Regions from separate parts of the Homo sapiens genome. Here region 1 is linked to region 2. Evidence: fine-mapped expression QTL. A gene starts in region 2. The other region holds a variant in brackets. All regions are shown on one strand. Distances are between the middles of the regions. Region 1 overlaps NSD3 (nuclear receptor binding SET domain protein 3). Region 2 holds the start of BAG4 (BAG cochaperone 4).

Evidence for each region. PIP is the estimated chance that this variant, and not a neighbour inherited with it, causes the effect.
Region 1: its variant is fine-mapped to the expression of BAG4 in whole blood (TOPMed, PIP above 0.99).

Annotation. Positions count from the first base shown.
Region 1 is chr8:38,343,133-38,347,132 of GRCh38, reverse strand. All of the region lies in intron 2 of NSD3 (nuclear receptor binding SET domain protein 3), which reads left to right. Among named protein-coding and RNA genes, the nearest start is that of NSD3, 37 kb to the left of the region's middle. The variant G/A (reference allele first, on the strand shown) is at 2,118.
Region 2 is chr8:38,174,350-38,178,880 of GRCh38, reverse strand. BAG4 (BAG cochaperone 4) reads right to left here and starts at 2,026. Exons shown (of 5, transcript NM_004874.4): 1 at 1,742-2,026. The coding sequence starts at 2,011. It overlaps LSM1 (LSM1 homolog, mRNA degradation associated), which reads left to right and starts at 2,388. Exons shown (of 4, transcript NM_014462.3): 1 at 2,388-2,606. The coding sequence starts at 2,561. RefSeq lists enhancers at 1,084-1,423, 2,334-2,483, 1,705-2,562, 2,894-2,983, 2,563-3,420.

The DNA of each region.
Region 1 (4,000 bases), 170 kb before region 2:
CCAGTAGAGCTTAGATTTAACACTCATTGCTAATGTTTGCTACAAAATAACCTGAAATAATAGAAATCTTTTTATTAAAATCAGAGTTAGTATTAATAAATATTGATTAAAACTTCAGGTGAGTTTTTATAAAAGTCATCCTTTATAGGTAACTTAAGATATATGCTGCTGAATTTTTTAATATCTGAGATTTCAGCGTGAATTTGCTTAGCAATAATATAATAAGTATGTAACATAATTCTAGCTTAAATGAAGAGTTCATAATATAAATTGCAAATGTTTTCTAAACTTTGACTTGGGAAAACTATATTTATTTTTATGACAGCTATCTGCTTTTATATGTGTTATACCTGAATAAGTTAATTTATTTTCTGTTCAAAGAAATGTTTACTTCTTACCTATTCATCTTTTCCTTGGTAGCTGGCTTCTATTACTTCATACAACTCACATGTGATGTTTTTCTGGAGTAAAGGTCACAATGCTTCTAGACTCTCACAAGTCCCAGTGTGACATTTCAACATGTTTTCTCACTTTTTATAGTTTTCTTATTTATTCATTAACAAATGTTGGTGAAATGCTCCTCCTACTGTGTGCTAGGCAATGATCTAAGACTTAAAGGTATGACAATGAATGAAAAGTAGAGATGCCTGCTCTCAGGATGCTTATATTCTAGTGAGGGGAGCCAGAAAATACACACACATATACATATATATATACACATATATACATATATACAATATATATTTATATATACATATATATACATATATACATATACTATATATACTATATACATGTGTATATACATATATACATATACATATACTATATATACTATATACTATATATGTATATATACATAGTCTTCATAGCATCTAAAGCTAACTTATGTACACACATATACATATGCATATATACATAATACATAGGTATGTATATACATATATGTATATATACATATATACATACATATGCATACATATATGTATATGTGTGTACATAAGTTCTCATAGCTTTAGATGCTATGAAGACAATAAAACTGGGTAATGAGATAAAGAGTAATCAGTGATGTTTCTAGTAGTCATTTTGCAATGAGATTCTAAAACCAGTTCTGTCTCTGTTAGATGTCTGCTATACCTAGTTCTTTATATCACCTAAACCTTCAGTTAACTATTATAGCTCAGGATTAGAATGTTTAGATTTTATTTTATTTTATTGTTTTTGAGACGGAGTTTCACTCTTATTGTCCATGCTGGAGTGCAGTGGTGCAATCTTGGCTCACCGCAACCTCCGCCTCCAGGGTTCAAGCAATTCTCCTGCCTCAGCCTCCCGAGTAGCTGGGGACTACAGGCATACCACCACGCCTGGCTAATTTTTTTTTTTTTTTCAAGTAGAGACAGGGTCATGTTAGTCAGGCTGGTCTCAAACTCCCGACCTCAGGTGATCCACCTGCCTTGGCCTCTCAAAGTGCCGGGATTACAGGCGTGAGCCACTGCGCCTGGCCCAGATGTTTAGATTTTAATTTAAGGGTTTTAATTCATTTTCCCTTTTATTGAATCATGATGAGCAAAATTTACTATTTGATTGTTTAGGATCTTACAATAGCTTGGGATAAAGGAATATCAACTTGACCAAAAGTATAGCTGGAGAAAGTGGCATTGACTGCCTGGAATATTACTAGGAGCATTGCCTGAAAGTCGAGTCTTGGGGGGAAATCCAGGTTTTTTTCTTGTTCGTTCTCTCTCTCTCTCCCTCTCTCCCTGTCTCCTTCTCCCCCTCTTCCTCTCCCTCCCTCTCCCTGCTCCCCTCTCTGCCCCATTCCTCCCCCTTTCCATCCTACCCCCTCGTCCCTTCCCCCTTCCATTCCTTCCTTCTTCTCTCCCTTCTTCTCTGCCTCTCTCCTCTCTCTCTCTCCCTCTCCCTCTCACCCCTTCTTTCTTCCCTTCCTTCAAAGAAGTAAAGAGGTAAGTTCTTGTTAATTGAATTTTGATTAATTGGAACTGTATCACACACGGGGGCAGTTGTAGAAGTTGTAGTCCATTCTGACCACAGACCTTCAAAGCCAGAGCTCCCACAGCTCTTGCCTATCGTTAATGTCATGCTTTTGCTAAGCTAGA[G/A]ATGTGTATAAATTAATGTTTCACAACTGCATATATTTTTAAATTAGATTTCCTTAACTTGAACAACATCTACAGTGCTTCCTTCAGGACAGTTGTTTTAAGTGTTTTAATAGTCAATACCCTATGCCTACTGGTTGTCCATAGGGGTCCCAGCCCTTGGTGTTTAGCATTGTAGAGAACTGAGAAGTGAAAAGGAAGCCCAAAGAAGCATCCACTGACTTCACTGGACAGCTTCCCTCCCCCAGATGCCTCAGGGAAACATAATGAAAAATGTATTCCTGGAGAAAAAAGTCTGATTTAAATCTCCTGGAGCTGGATTTGCTTTTATATAGATTTTTTCTTTTACTTTACTTTGTTGTTGTTGTTCCTTAAAAGCTCACTCATAGGTTCATAGGTTCTTTTTTGAGCAAACAAAATCTCATATAGTTGAGTTCCATGTTTAAGTCCGGGCATGGTGGCTCAATCTGTAATACCAGCCCTTTGGGAGGCTGAGGTGGGTGGATCACTTAAGGTCAGGAGTTCAAGACCAGCCTGGCCAACATGGTGAAACCCCATCTCTACTAAAAATATTTAAAAATTAGCCGGGCGTGGTGGTGGGTACCTGTAATCCCAACTATTCGGGAGGCCGAGGCACAGGAATTGCTTGAACCTGGGAGGTGGAGATTGCAGTGAGCCAAGATCATGCCACTGCACTCCAGCCTGGGTGACAGAATGAGACTCTGTCTGAAAAACAAACAAATAAAAAAACACAACACCTTAAGATTTCACCTGCTACTTTTTTTCTTAGTACTTGATGTGTAAGTATTTCCCCCTAATTCTAAGCTGTTTGGCCTTCTGAAGAGTGGCTGTTATTTGGAACAACCTAAGTATATCTTCTCAGCAATGAAAATGTGTCCAAACATCTAGGCAGCAGGAGACCTGAGATCACTACTGAAATTGTATATTTTAAAAATCTGCATGAGCTGTTTTTCCTCCCACCAAATCAGAAATATGTGGCTGTGTTTCTGCATGTCTTCCTCCTTGGCAGGTGGAATGCCTCAGGCATGTGAGCGTAGGCCCTATTATTCAAACAGTCACTGGTCTCCTATCAGCACTTCAGTGGGCTAATCCACTAAGGCAGAGTCTCATTAACCCTTAGTTTGCCATATCCCCTTATAAAAAGCAGAGTGGCTGGATCAGTCCCGTGAACACTAAGGTAGCAGGTTTGGTTCTCTAGCCTCAGAGTATTAGGCCTTAAAATTCTTAGAAACTCTTTATATGCAAAATGTTCTTTATTGTACACATTTTTTATTTGATTTTATGTGTTTATTTTTGAGACAGAATCTCACTCTGTTGCCCAGGGTGGAGTGCAGTGGTGCAGTCTCGGCTCACTGCAACCTCTGCCTCCAGGATTCAAGCGATTATCCTGCCTCAGCCTCCTCAGTAGCTGGGATTACAGGGGTGTGCCACCACGCCTGGCTAGTTTTTGTATTTTTAGTAGAGATGGGGTTTCATTATGTTGGCCAGGCTGGTCGCGAACCCCTGACCTTAGGGTGATCCACCCACCTTGGCCTCCCAAACTGCTTGGATTACAGGTGTGAGCCACTGCACTTGGCCCACATTTTTTATTTTTAAGGTTACAAACTTAAGTCATTCAGAAAGTAAAATAAAAATGCACAATTTATTACCTTTAAAATTTTCTTTCCAACTTTAATGTTGACATCAGTTTTTTGTTCTTTTAGGGACTATGATTTTACTCTATGTTTTTGAAATTTATATAAGTAATATTATTAAGGCTTTGAAATTCTGACAGATTTGATGTGTATTACTAATCTTTTTTTTTTGAGGCAGAGTCTCTGTCACCCAGGCTGGAGTACAGTGGCACGATCTCGGCTCACTGCAAC
Region 2 (4,531 bases):
TTACAGGTGTGAGCCATCTCACCAGGCCCTGATTTTAGAACATTTCATTATCCCAAAAAGAATATTCTCACCTACACCGCCAGTCCCCCAACCTCTGGCAACCATTAAGCTTTCTGTCTCTAGATTTACCTACTCTGGCCATTTCATATAAATGGAATCACACAATATGCAGTCTTTCTGACTGACTTAGCTCACGTAGTGTGATGTTTTCAAGGTTCATTCATATTGTAGCATGCATCAGCAGTTCATTCCTTTCTAAGGCCAAATAATACTCCATTGAATGAATATATTAACACCATATTTTGTTTATCGATGCATCAGTCGTTATGTCCTTACAACATTCCTGTATTCGAATAAAGAACCAGGGCTCCAAGAGGTTCACTCACTTTATAACTCAAATAATAAAATGACATTTGGGGCCGAGCGCAGTGGCTCACGCCTGTAATCCCAACACTTCGGGAGGCCGAGGGGCAGGGGAAAGGGGGATCACTTGAGGTCAGGAGTTCAAGACCATCCTGGCCAACATGGCGAAACCCCGTCTGTACTAAAAATACAAAAATTAGCCGGGTGTGATGGCCGGCGCCTGTAATCCTAGCTACTCGAGAGGCTGAGGCAGGAGAATCGCTTAAACCGGGAGGCGGAGGTTGCAGTGAGCCGAGATGGCACCACTGCACTCCAGCCTGGGCAACAGAGCGAGACTCCAACTCAAAAAAAAAAAAAACAAAAAAAACGACATTTCTACTTTTTGGCGATTATGAATAATGATGCTATGAACATGGGCGGACAAGCTTTATGTGAACATACGTTATCAGTTTTCTTGGGTATATAGCCAGGAGTGGGCTTGCTGGGTCATAGACTAATTCTAATGCTTAATGTTTTGAGGAACTACCAAACTATTTTCCACCATTTTACATCCCCACCAGCAATGTACGAGAATTTCACTATTACATTTTCAACAAATGAGGATAATTCTTGAACGAACAGAGAGGTATGCTGCCACCGCAGAACGACAACCCACTACCCAGAAGACTGTATTAACAAAGCAGAAGTATATGTCCGGCAGGAAAACGGAGAATAAAATGTTGCAGGTCCAAGTGTATTAGGCAAGTGAGTTAACCTCGCAGAGCCCCGGTTCCTTATTCGAAAACAAAAAAAAGGGCCGCTGTAATGCCATTTTACCTTGCAGTCGCCGTGAAAATTAAATCAGTCAATCCGCGTAAAGGTACTTTACAACACTGATTATTCATGATTCGATCTCAGGCAAGGCATTAGGGGCAAACAGCTAAATGCCCAGATCCCTCCTCCTCGCAAAGGTTCCTTCCCCTCGGGAGGGTCCCTGAGCGGCATCGGGGGCTGCAGCCACTTCCCTTCCCCGGGAGAGCCGGCCTGCCAGCCACGCAGGATAAATTGCTAGAGCTGGAGCAGTAGATCCGTGCCACCCCTACCCAGCACCGCTCCCAGGAGAGAGATCTGCAGCCTGCTGCTAAGCTTAGTAAGTCCGCGCAGGATCTTTCTTTTTTAAATGGTAATAAACATATTTTTTGGGGTCGAAGCAGAAAAGGAGGGGCAAAGGGAACACAAGCATGTCCCCCCAACCTCTGATCTTAGTCTCGGTCTCTCCAACACCCCCCGCAACACACCCTCCTCCACATAAGGAAAACAAGTATGAAACCCGATCCTTTACGAACCCCAGCCCCAAGGGCCCTCACCTCCCCGCAAGGACAGAGGGTGCAAAGCTTACCTGGTGGCTTCCTCCGGCTCGACCAGGCTCTGGCCAGGCGCCTCCCGAGGGATAGTAGCCATCGCCTCCTCCGCCTTCTCCCAGCCAGGTGGTCTCCGCCGGGCCGCCCCCGCGCACCCGCCAGGAAATGGGAGGCTGGGGAGGTTCAGGGCGAAGAGGATATAAGGGTGGAGGTGGGTGTACCGGCACATCTCCACCCCCAGGCCCGTAGTAGCGGCCGTAGGACGGACCGTCACTGGGGCCGTAGCCCGAGCGCCTCAGGGCCGACATGGGATCCGCTGCCCTGAAGCGCTTCCCGCCCCGCTCCCCACGGCCGACCCATCGCGCAGGCGCCCGCGGGCGATTGCGAATGGAGAGCAGCGAAGGGGGTCGGACGACGCCAGCCAATCCCAGGCCCGGGCCCGCCCCTTCTGCTGCCGAACCCCGAAAGCTGAGGGACGGAGGTCAGTGACTCTGGGGTCTCGGGAACCCGGAGACGAAGGAAGACACCGTGTTCCTTAAGAGGGAGTATACGTTTCCTCGCCATTTATCCAATGGAGTTTCCTCTTACCTACTTAACAGGAACAGGGAAAGGGTGTCCCCCAACGGTACGGCTGCCCCGCCTCTTCCTGGGGGCCCACACGTGTTACAGGAAGTGGGTAAGGGTAATATGGAGGAGCTTCCGGCAGCCCCCGGCGGCTGAAAGCCGGGGCAGAAGTGCTGGTCTCGGTCGGGATTCCGGGCTTGGTCCCACCGAGGCGGCGACTGCGGTAGGAGGGAAGAGGTTTTGGACGCGCTGGCCTCCCGCCGCTGTGCATTGCAGCATTATTTCAGTTCAAAATGAACTATATGCCTGGCACCGCCAGCCTCATCGAGGACATTGACAGTGAGTAGTTTATCTCCTCCCGGTGGAGCCCGGGGTTAGACCCTTCCTCCCGGGCGGGCGCCTCTTCCGAAGAAGCTTGTAGAATGAGTCCCGGGCGGGGCCGGTGTGTTCTGAGCTCAATCCGGGCGTTCCGCGTCGATGTCCTCCACAGCTGCGGTACACACCGCTTGCCCACCCAGTAGCCTGCTGCTACTTCTGCCCCTCGCAGCCTCCGCCAGCCCTCTAGCTGGTGAGCCCCAAGCGATGGAACTCATTCTTGCTTCCGTGGATCGCGGCAGCAGAGGCCCGAACACGAAAGAAGCCCGGGGAGGGGGGGGGCTTCTCCCCCGTCCACTCCTGCCTGCAGTATTTCGAAGTATCAGCGTGTTACCGGTGGATGGATCGGAATACCTAGAGAGAGGATTCATTAAAAAGCGAAAATATTAAGACAGCGGCAGTTGGACTTAATTGGCAGTAAATGTAGGCGCTCTACGGTGTGGCCATTTGCTAGCTTATTTTACTGTGAGGGTCATTAGCACCTTCAGGTTATTGTAGTAGAGACCACTGTTAGACATGGTATTGACTTTTCTGGAAAGACCAAATCACTTGCAACCTTTTTTTTTTTTTTAAGACAATTTACTTTTGCTTTTACTAAGAAGACCTCCCTTATTCCTGGTTTTTGTCCGGAAGAGGAGCTCAGTCCTATACAAAAGCGAAAAGAACCGTCTGCAGTTGTTCTGGCTTTCCTTTTTTCTAAATTCCGTCTGTGCATTATTCCTCAAGCAACATTTTTTATTGTTTTAATCATGTGATCTTTCTCATTAACTTGTTTCAAGATGATTTACACATAGTTTTAAATAAGTTGCAATCGTCTCAGTTACTCTGTGAATACGCAATTTAGAATCTATGGTTAAAATTTCATTTTACGGGCCTGGCGCGGTGGCTCACGCCTGTAATCCCAGCACTTTGGGGGGCCGAGGCGGGCAGATCGCCTGAGGTCGGGAGTTCAAGACCAGCCTAGCCAACATGGTGAAACCCCGTTCCTACAATTAGCTGGGCACTATGGCGGTGCCTGTAATCCCAGCTACTCGGGAGGCTGAGGCGGGAGAATCGCTTGAACCCGGGAGGAGAAGGTTGCAGTGAGCCGAGATCGCACCATTGCACTCCAGCCTGAGCGACAGAGCAAGACTCCGTCTCAAAAAAAAAAAAAAAATCATTTTATGGTTGACAGATCTTTTTTCTTTTCTTTTCTTTTTTTTTTTTTTTTTTTGAGACAGAGTCTTGCTCTGTCGCCCAGGCTGTAGTGTGCAGTGGCGCGATCTCGACTCACTGGAACCTCCACCTCCCGGGTTTAAACAATTCTTGTGCCTCAGCCTCCCAAGTAACTGGGATTACAGGCGCCTGCCAGCACGCCCAGCTAATTTTTGCATTTTTTGGTAGAGACGAGGTTTCGCCATGCTGGGCAGTCTGGTCTCCAACTCCTGACCTCAGGTGATCCACCCACCTCGGCCTCCCAGAGTACTGGGATTACAGGCGTGAGCCACCGCCTCCGGCCGACAGATCATTTTTTTAAACACAAATTACTTATTGTGCTATGTAAGGGAAATGTAGTGTAATTGGACTAAATATATATTAACATCTATATGAACCTGTTACGTGTAACAGGATGTTTTAGTTGCTCGAGGATGCTCTTTTGCCCTCATCTCTCCTTATATATCCTCTAACACATCCTGCCATTTTACTAAAAATCAGTTTTGCTCTTTGGTCCTCTAACCCCTACCTCTTTGTAGATTCCAGACCCCCTACTTTATGAAAACTTTGAAGCCATTTGATATGCACCCTTTGCTCCCCAACCCTAACACACAGTTTCCTCCTTGTGTTTCTGTATTTTCACCCATCCTTTAATTTGAGTAGGAAGGATTCCTCCCTTTTTGTCTGTCTGTTGT